Linked DNA regions of Homo sapiens. The protein of the gene in region 1 purifies or fractionates together with the protein of each later gene. This does not show direct contact. Each region holds a gene or a part of one and is shown in the gene's direction. Other genes may lie near its edges. The genes, in order: ABCC5 and SAAL1.

Region 1 (4,410 bases):
TAAAAGTTTTTAAGTTTTCCCTTTCACATTTAAGCGTTTGATCTACCTGAAATGGGTTTTTTCTGTGTGGTATGAAGCGGTAATCCCTGATTGTTTTTTCATATGTATAACCAATTGTTCCAGTACTATTTACTGACTCTTCTTGCTTTCCCCACGGATTCGTAAGGTTTTCTGTCACAGATCAAGTTACATGGATGCACCAGTCTGTTTGGGGGCTCTTTATTCTATTGCATTGGTCTATCAATCCGTGCGCAAGAATATGCTGCTTTACGATACAGTAGTGTCTTCACACTAGCTAACTAGCTAGCTGTTATAAAGATGGACAAGTCACTTTACCTTCTCCTTCTTCCTCTTCCTCTTCTTCTTCTTCTTTTTTAATCTTTGAATTAAAAAAAAATACGGCGGGGTGAGGTGGCTCGCGCCTGTAATCCCAGCACTTTGGGAAGCCGAGGCGGGCGGATTACCTGAGGTCGGGAGTTCGAGACCAGCCTGGCCAATATGGCGAAACCCTGTCTCTACTTAAAAAATACGAAAATTAGCCGGGCGTGGTGGCGGACGCCTGTAATCCCAGCTACTCGGGAGGCTGAGGCAAGGAGAACTGCTTGAACCCGGAAGGCGGACGCTGCAGTGAGCCGAGATCGCGCCATTGCACTCCAGCCTGGGCAACAGAGCCAGACTCCTTAAAAAAAAAAAAAAACTCATAATACCTACTCATAGGGCTGTAATGGAGATTAAAGGAAACAAGAATGGTATGTAAAGCATCGGATACAAGGTAGGGAAGAACTCAACAGTGGCTTTTATTTAATGATGCTGAAGGTACCGATGAAACAGAGAAATAAAGGGATCAATCTTTCTGGGAGCTTCAGTTTCATTTATAAAAAGAAGAAGATGAGTTAGCATAACATTTCTAAGGCTCTTGCCACTTCTAAGACTGTGATCCTGGCATTTTATTATCTAGAGACCAGGCAGCGAGACATTGATGGGCAGTTGGTGTTAAAGTGAGAAAGGCGGTATCTGCGCAGACTGCAGGGTCGAACCATGAGCAAGCAATCGTATCTGCCACAACAGATAAGAACTGGGGCTGGCCGGCCTGACGACTCTCAACGGGTTAGACGCGGGCTACGATGACCTTCACGATCTTTTCTGGCAGCTACACGGCCACGCAGGGTGGGACTGCTCTGCCTACGAACAGCACTGTGTGCGAACACAGGGCCACGGTTAAGCCTCCCGGCTGCCTCCCCCAGGGAACACGACCCCTGAGAAGATTCCAGACAGTCTCGCAGAGGCACGGGGAAGGATGGAACAGAGCCGGGAGCTCGGTGGGAAGAGGGGCAGCCCGCACCGCCCCCGGGATGTCACCGGCGCTTCTGGGAAATGTAGTCCTTCGCCGCGTCCGCAGCCCTGGGCACTCGGAAGGAGGACTACAGTTCCCTTCAGCCTTGGGAATGCTTTGTGCAGCGCGCTTGCGCGGTGTGGCGGCCGATGCCGCTATAAAGGCTTGTTTTGCTGCAGGGCTCATGCTCGGGAGCGTGGTTGAGCGGCTGGCGCGGTTGTCCTGGAGCAGGGGCGCAGGTAGGTGATGGCTGCTGCCGCACCCCTGCCCTCCAGCTCGGTTGTCACGGGGATCACCCCTTTGCATTTCCTCGGGGCGTGGCGGGATGTGGCCAGGGCTGCGAGCAGTTCGGGGGACACTGGAGACTTGGGGAACGGCGTATGGCCTCCCCCTGGTCTCCTGCCGCCGCCTCCTAGGCCTGTGAGCCCGGGGTCTGGTGACGGGGTCGTGTGCTGGAAGACAGGCAGGTAGGATCGGGATGAGCGGGCAGGGACGCGGGCTACGTCCCTGGCCGCGGCCGCCAGGGGGCGCTGCGCCCGCGGGCCGTGGGTGTGGGTCGCGCTCGCCTGGGCAGGCCGGAGCGGGCTGTGGGAACGCCCTAGGGCCCGGGCATCCCAGGCGAAGCGGGTCTGAGAGAAACGCCCACCTGGGAGGCTGTGCAGCGGGTGGCTCGGGGCACCCTGCTCAACCCGCAGCGGAGCCGCCAGCGACCTTCGAAGTAAGTCATCCCCTTCGTTTTTGCAAGCGGGTAAATGGAGGTACGTGACATAAGCACGCGCAGCAAAGCCGTGGCTGTGCCGGGAACGCAGCCCAGATCTCTCCACGGTCATCCAGTGCTCTTTTCGCTTCTGCCACACAGAGCCGCGGGTGGCTTTGTGTTTATCACACAGGGGCCATTTGGTTTCTGCACAGACGGAGAGGCTGGAGGCAGGTGGGCACAGGAACGACGGGGAAAGTTTCAGGAGGTCTTGGAGGAGGAGATGGCTAGGTTTTACTGTGGTCCGCAGCGTGTATGAAAGGTGAGGCTGCTTGGAGACGCAACAAGTGGATTACAGTGGGTGTGGTAAATACGTATCCCTTTAGCGTGGTGTCTTCCTCGTGCAGCTTGAGGGCCTGGAGGTGATGGAAACCTACTCATGAGTGTTGGGATGACTGCAGCTTGCACACACCAGTCTGGTAATCCCGTGCAACTCTCCTCCTGCCATGCAGTTGAATCAGTATCATTGTGCAGGGAGAGTGTCTACACTTTTATCAGTGGAAAGAGAATCTTGGTAAAAAAGGGCAGCTGACTAAGTGGCCTCAACCCTATTGGGCACTTCTTTGGGGTTCTCCCACGTTGATTATTCTGCTTCTACCCTTGTACATGTCTGGACAACAGGTTTGTTTTTTACAAACAAAAATCCCTTCTCTTTCTTCCTCTCTTGATAGCTGAGGCAAGTGAGCATTTAAAAAAGATATTCCAACAACTTTAAAGGAGGACACGAGAAGATAGGGAAATATAAATAGTATCAGTAAAATGGCTGGCCTGGGGATCCATCCTTGCTTGCTTGCTTGCTTCAGACTGGGGCTTTGTTTCTTTCCAAACCTGTCAGGATTCCCAGCTCTTCGCCGGCCTCCACGTGGGGTGCCCTCTTTTATGTTCCAGATACACAGACGATGGTGTCCTTATGTTCAAGGCCACAGACAGTAACTTTGTGCCTACTTTGGGCCTGCCTGCTCTCCTGATTGTGCCTCTTTTTCCAGGAAAGTAGAGATGAGTGTGTTAGAGATAATGGAACACTGTTCCCCACACCCTTCATACATAGAATAACTTAGTCCCTTAGGATAGTTTAGCAGTGTCTACCACAGCAGTCACTGTAGGCACAAAACAGTCATTATTTGTGTCATAACAGGGAAGTCGTTTTGTCCCTGCCTCTCTCTGCTCCTGTGCTCCACTGATTCTACTTCATCCTTTGAAATAAAAGTGGTTGAAAGAATCTTTGGTTATCATGGGTGCTTAGATAATTAAGATTATGTTCGTGTTCTTCTTGATGTGGCATTTCATATTGTGGATGAGTTCCAGTGACCTCCTCTGTTTCAAACTGCTCACCGCCCCAACCCCCACCTTTTAAAAAGGTAGTACTAATCTTTTCCTCTTCCAGATAATCAGCTAAGCTAGGGAACCCTTGAAGGGGAAGGTTAGAATTTCGTGATTCCCGTAAGAAGGTTACTCTGATCTACAGCTACAGCTCAACACTGGGGACACTGGCAGATGCCAGGTCTGTTTATAGTTTAGCCTTAATGAGGTCTCAATGACGTGATTGCTGCACTCTGGCTTGGTGAGCCGCTGTTCTTTATGGTGTAGTTTGTCATTGGACAAGGTGACTTTTTTTTTTTTTTTAAAGATAAGTAACAGCTATATCAACTTAGGGTACTTGAACCAGAATTCTGAAAGGCAAGAAATCAAGCTTTCTTTGGACTGGAAACCTGTCTTTGCATAGGAGATTTAGTCCTTTTTATTCAGAGGATTAGTAAGTGTTCTCTTTTTATCTGACACTTTAAAAATTGCATTATAATGGTTAGAATTTTGTGCTGCAGAAGTAGTAGTTTTAAGTCACAGCGATAGCCAGGGATTTATGGAATCCAGAAGGCGACACGGCTACACGTCTTTAATTTCCGTTGGAGGCTAGTATGAAAGGTGTTTTCTCAGCTTGTCTCTGGGAGGCTGTGACCCTTCTTAGAGGGGGGAAACATTTTGGAGAAGTATGTATGTGTTTTTTGTTTTTAAGTGACCTGAGTTGATACAGCATATTGATTAGACTTAGCCAGGCAAGCAGTGGTTTAGAATAGAGTTTCAGGTAAAAACTAGGTAAGACTTAGTAATACAGGGTGGAGAATTTGTTTTTGTTATTGTTTTTTACTAACAGCTTTGTTGCCATAGGATTTATATGACATGAAATTCACTCTTTTAAAGTATAAATTCAGTGTGTTTTTTTTCAATGTATTCACTGCATTGTGCAACCATTACCACTATCTAGTTTTAGAACATTTTCAGTACCCAGGGAATTTGTGTTTGAAGTTAAGTTATAACATTGTTT
Region 2 (3,816 bases), on another chromosome or scaffold:
GAGTTCCAAAAACAAAAAATTTCTGACATTTTTGTTGACATCGTGTTAACTTGATAGGATATGTTATGCCCTTTTATTTGTTCAGGTCTTTTTTGTGTCCCTCAGTAATGGTTTCTTCATATGGATCTTGGATATTTCTTATTAGTTTCATTCCTAGATAATTGTATCTTTTGGGTTTACTATTGTCTGTGACATATTTTCTTCCACTGATTATTATTGTTGGAATATATGAAGGCTATTGATTTTGGTATATTAACTTTGTATCCTGTAACCTTACCAAATTCTTAATATTTTTAGTAGTCGTTCCAGTAATAATCTTTGGGCTTTATCTGATAGTGCTTTGGCTTAAGTTAGATATATTTTATCACTTGTCTATCTCTGGTTTATTCTTCTTGTCTTTCTGGGTTGCCTAGAGTCTCTGGTGTAAAATAATAGTGATGGTAGAAAACATCCTTACCTTCTTCCTGATTTTAGTAGGAATAATCCTAGAGTTCCATTGTTAAGCATTATTGGGTATAAGATATATGTTTTACAGCCAGGTGCTGTGGCTCACACCTATAATCCCAGCACTTTGGGAGGCTGAGGCGGGCAGATTACCTGAGGTCAGGAGTTCAAAGTCAGTCTGGCTAACATGGTGAAACCCTGTCTCTGCTAAAAATACAAAAATTAGCCAGGCTTGGTGACGCATGCCTGTAATCTCAGTTACTCAGAAGGCTGAGGCAGGAGAGTTGCTCGAACCTGGGAGGCAGAGGCTGCAGTGAGCTGAAATCACGCCATTGTACTCCAGCCTGGGCAGCAGAGCAATACTCCGCACCCCCCCTCCAAAAACAGATATATGTCTTACCATTTAAGGAAATATTAATCTGTTTCTATTTTATTAAGAGTTTTTAATAAAAAAGGAATGTTGAATATTTTTAAGATCTTCATTTGTAGATACGTTACCTCATTGAGAAGGTGGCATTGAGTACAGTCCTTAGGGACAGAATGGAGGGAGTCATGTGCATACTTGGGGAGAAGAACATTCCAGACAGAGGGAATGGAAAGTGTAAAAGCCTTCAACCAGAAGTATGCCTGGTGTCTTTGAGGAGGAACAGTGAGATCCCATATGGCTGGGGTGGATTTAGCAAAGTAGCACATGGAGCCAGAGAGGTAGAGTATGGAGGGCCTGATGTTGCCTTTTCCTCTGAATGAGGTGGGGAACCATGGTGGGTTTTAAGCAGAAGTTGCCTACGCATGAGCTGGCTTTAATAGGCTGCTGTTTTGATGAGAAATATGGGGAGTCATGGGTACAAAAGGGACATGAGTTAGGAGGCTTTTAGAGATTCTTCATAATTGACTCATAGCAAGAAATGTTATAACTTGGACCAAGATGGTAACAGTGGTAGTGGTAGAAAAATCCTGTGAGCTAATTTTTTTGTACTTTTTGTAAAGACACGGTTTCACCATATTGCTCAGGCTGGTCTCGAACTCCTGGGCTCAAGCTACCCGCCCATCTTGGCCTCTCAAACTGCTCAGATTACAAGCGTGAGCTACCACCCCTGACCTCCTAGGGTATTTTAATTGCTGATGCTTCATTGCTTTAGTTCTCAACTCAATGTTACCTTGTCAGAGAGCTAGCCCTGCTAGGCTGCTATATTATATTCCTCTTTTATTTCCTTCATAGAACTTAACCAAAACCTGAAATAGTCTGTTTTATTTACTTATTTGAAAGTATAAAAATGTAAGCCTCTTATGGGCTGACATCTTGCTGATGTTACCAGTGTATCTGTAATACCCAAAATAATAATGTCTAGCACTAATTCAATACATATGAATGAAAAACCAAACTTAACTGGCCAATTCCATGCTTCTTGATTTGTTTATACAGTAGATCTTCCTCTAATTGACAGCCTCATTCGGGTCTTACAAAATATGGAACAGTGTCAGAAAAAACCAGAGAACTCGGCAGAGTCTAACACAGAGGAAACTAAAAGGACTGATTTAACCCAAGATGATTTCCACTTGAAAATCTTAAAGGATATTTTATGTGAATTTCTTTCTAATATTTTTCAGGCATTAACAAAGGTAGGAAAGAAGTATTGATGATGTCATAAGCAAAAGAAAGTGTGGGTTGCTTAACGCTTCAAACTTTATTTTTTTTTAAATATGAAAGTAATATATAATTTGGGAAAATAAAGTAAAATCTTAATATCACCATGAGTTTATAATCTTAAAAACAACTAGCTGATGTGGTTTGGTATATTTACGTGTGACAGACATATGCCTATGTTTGCATGCATGTGTTTTTATAAATGCATTTTTCATATACTTTAACCCAGCATATGCAATTTTTATAGACTACTGTTTTCCCTTAACACTGTATTATAAACATTTTTCTTGATTCTAGATGAAAGACTTTTTTACTGAGAGCCAGTTTAAACCTAATTTACCAAATAATCAGTTTTCAAAATTTACTGCAAACTTCTTTTAAGGAACATTCTCCCTGAATATGTTCAATGGTTATTAATATTCTTCTTTTGACCATGTTTTTTCTATCCATATATTTGGAAAGAAATGTATTATGAATATGTTATGAATATATTGTATTATGAATATAAAATGTTATAAATATAGCTGTGAAGAATATATTTATTCATACCCACTTAATTTTTTAAAGAGTATTCCTTAAGAAGTTTCTCTTGGCCAGGCGCCTATAATCCCAGCACTTGGGAGGCTGAGGCAGGTGGATCACTTGAGCCCAGGAGTTTGAGACCAGTTTGGGCAACATGGCAAAACCTCATCTCTACAAAAAATACAAAAATTAGCTGGGCATGGTGGCACACGCCTGTGATCCTAGCTACTTGGGAGGCAAAGATGGAAGGATTGCTTGAGCCCAGGAGGTCGAGGCTGCAGTGAGCCCAGACTGTGCCACTACACTCCAACCTGAGCGACAGAGTGAGACCCTATCTCAAAAAACAAAATGAAACAAAAAGTTTCTCTTATTCTGGTGATTTTTTTTTTATTAGTTGTCTTGCTTCCCTTTTCCATATTTGTATTTTCCAGATTTGGGGTTATTACCTTAGCAGGTTTTATATAATTTAAATTACTGGATTCAACATTATAAATGTGAAGATGGCTAAGTCATGATGGCCATATTTTGTCAAAATGCTATTTATATGTGAAAATGTTGGTTTTACTTGACGCTTATTATTGGGTATTATAATTTTTATGTCAAAGTTCAGGTAATAAATTGTGTCTTACTTTGATTTGCATTTTTAAATTAATGAGATTGAAATATTTGGATGTCGTATGTTAATTTGTTTCCTACCTTTTAATAATTTATCCATTTTGATTATTTGTATGAATTTCTTGGGTAATAATGTATCTTTTCCATATTTATCGCATGTATTTTTTTCCCATTCTTTGCTGTTGTTTCTGTTTTTTGGAGCAAGGGACATCGATATTTCTTAACTTTTAAGTGGTGGGAACATCAAAGAAAGGTGGGCTGAGAATACACGAGTGCTATGTCATGCAAATTCTTATGTCATATTTAGGGGATTTAGACTTCATCTTGAAAAAGCTGAGGAACTACTAAAGATTTTTTACTTTTAAGCACCAAGTGATACGATCAGTTTAGAAAGATTACTCCAAAAGCAATAGAGAGGAAGGAGTAGAGAGAGTTGAGGCTGGAGGGCAGGAGATCAACTAACAGGCTCTTGTGGTTGGTAATCTTCAAGAATAATCTGAAAAATGATGGCAGCCTAAACAATGGAAGTTTGAATGGAGAGGAGGGATGGGGGTAAGAGAGATTTGGTAGAATAGAATTGAGCACTTGCC

What was found.
Region 2: the proteins of ABCC5 (region 1) and SAAL1 purify together in Homo sapiens (co-immunoprecipitation; one large-scale study listed by IntAct). This does not show direct contact.

Annotation. Positions count from the first base shown.
Region 1 is NC_000003.12:184,014,992-184,019,401, reverse strand, and holds the start of ABCC5 (ATP-binding cassette sub-family C member 5), read left to right. Parts: upstream 1-1,517; 5' UTR 1,518-1,572; exon of another isoform or gene 1,573-2,352; intron 2,353-2,437; exon of another isoform or gene 2,438-3,843; intron 3,844-4,410. UniProt on the Homo sapiens protein: ATP-dependent transporter of the ATP-binding cassette (ABC) family that actively extrudes physiological compounds, and xenobiotics from cells.
Region 2 is NC_000011.10:18,081,783-18,085,598, reverse strand, and holds part of SAAL1 (protein SAAL1), read left to right. Parts: intron 1-1,867; coding exon 1,868-2,064; intron 2,065-3,816. UniProt on the Homo sapiens protein: Plays a role in promoting the proliferation of synovial fibroblasts in response to pro-inflammatory stimuli.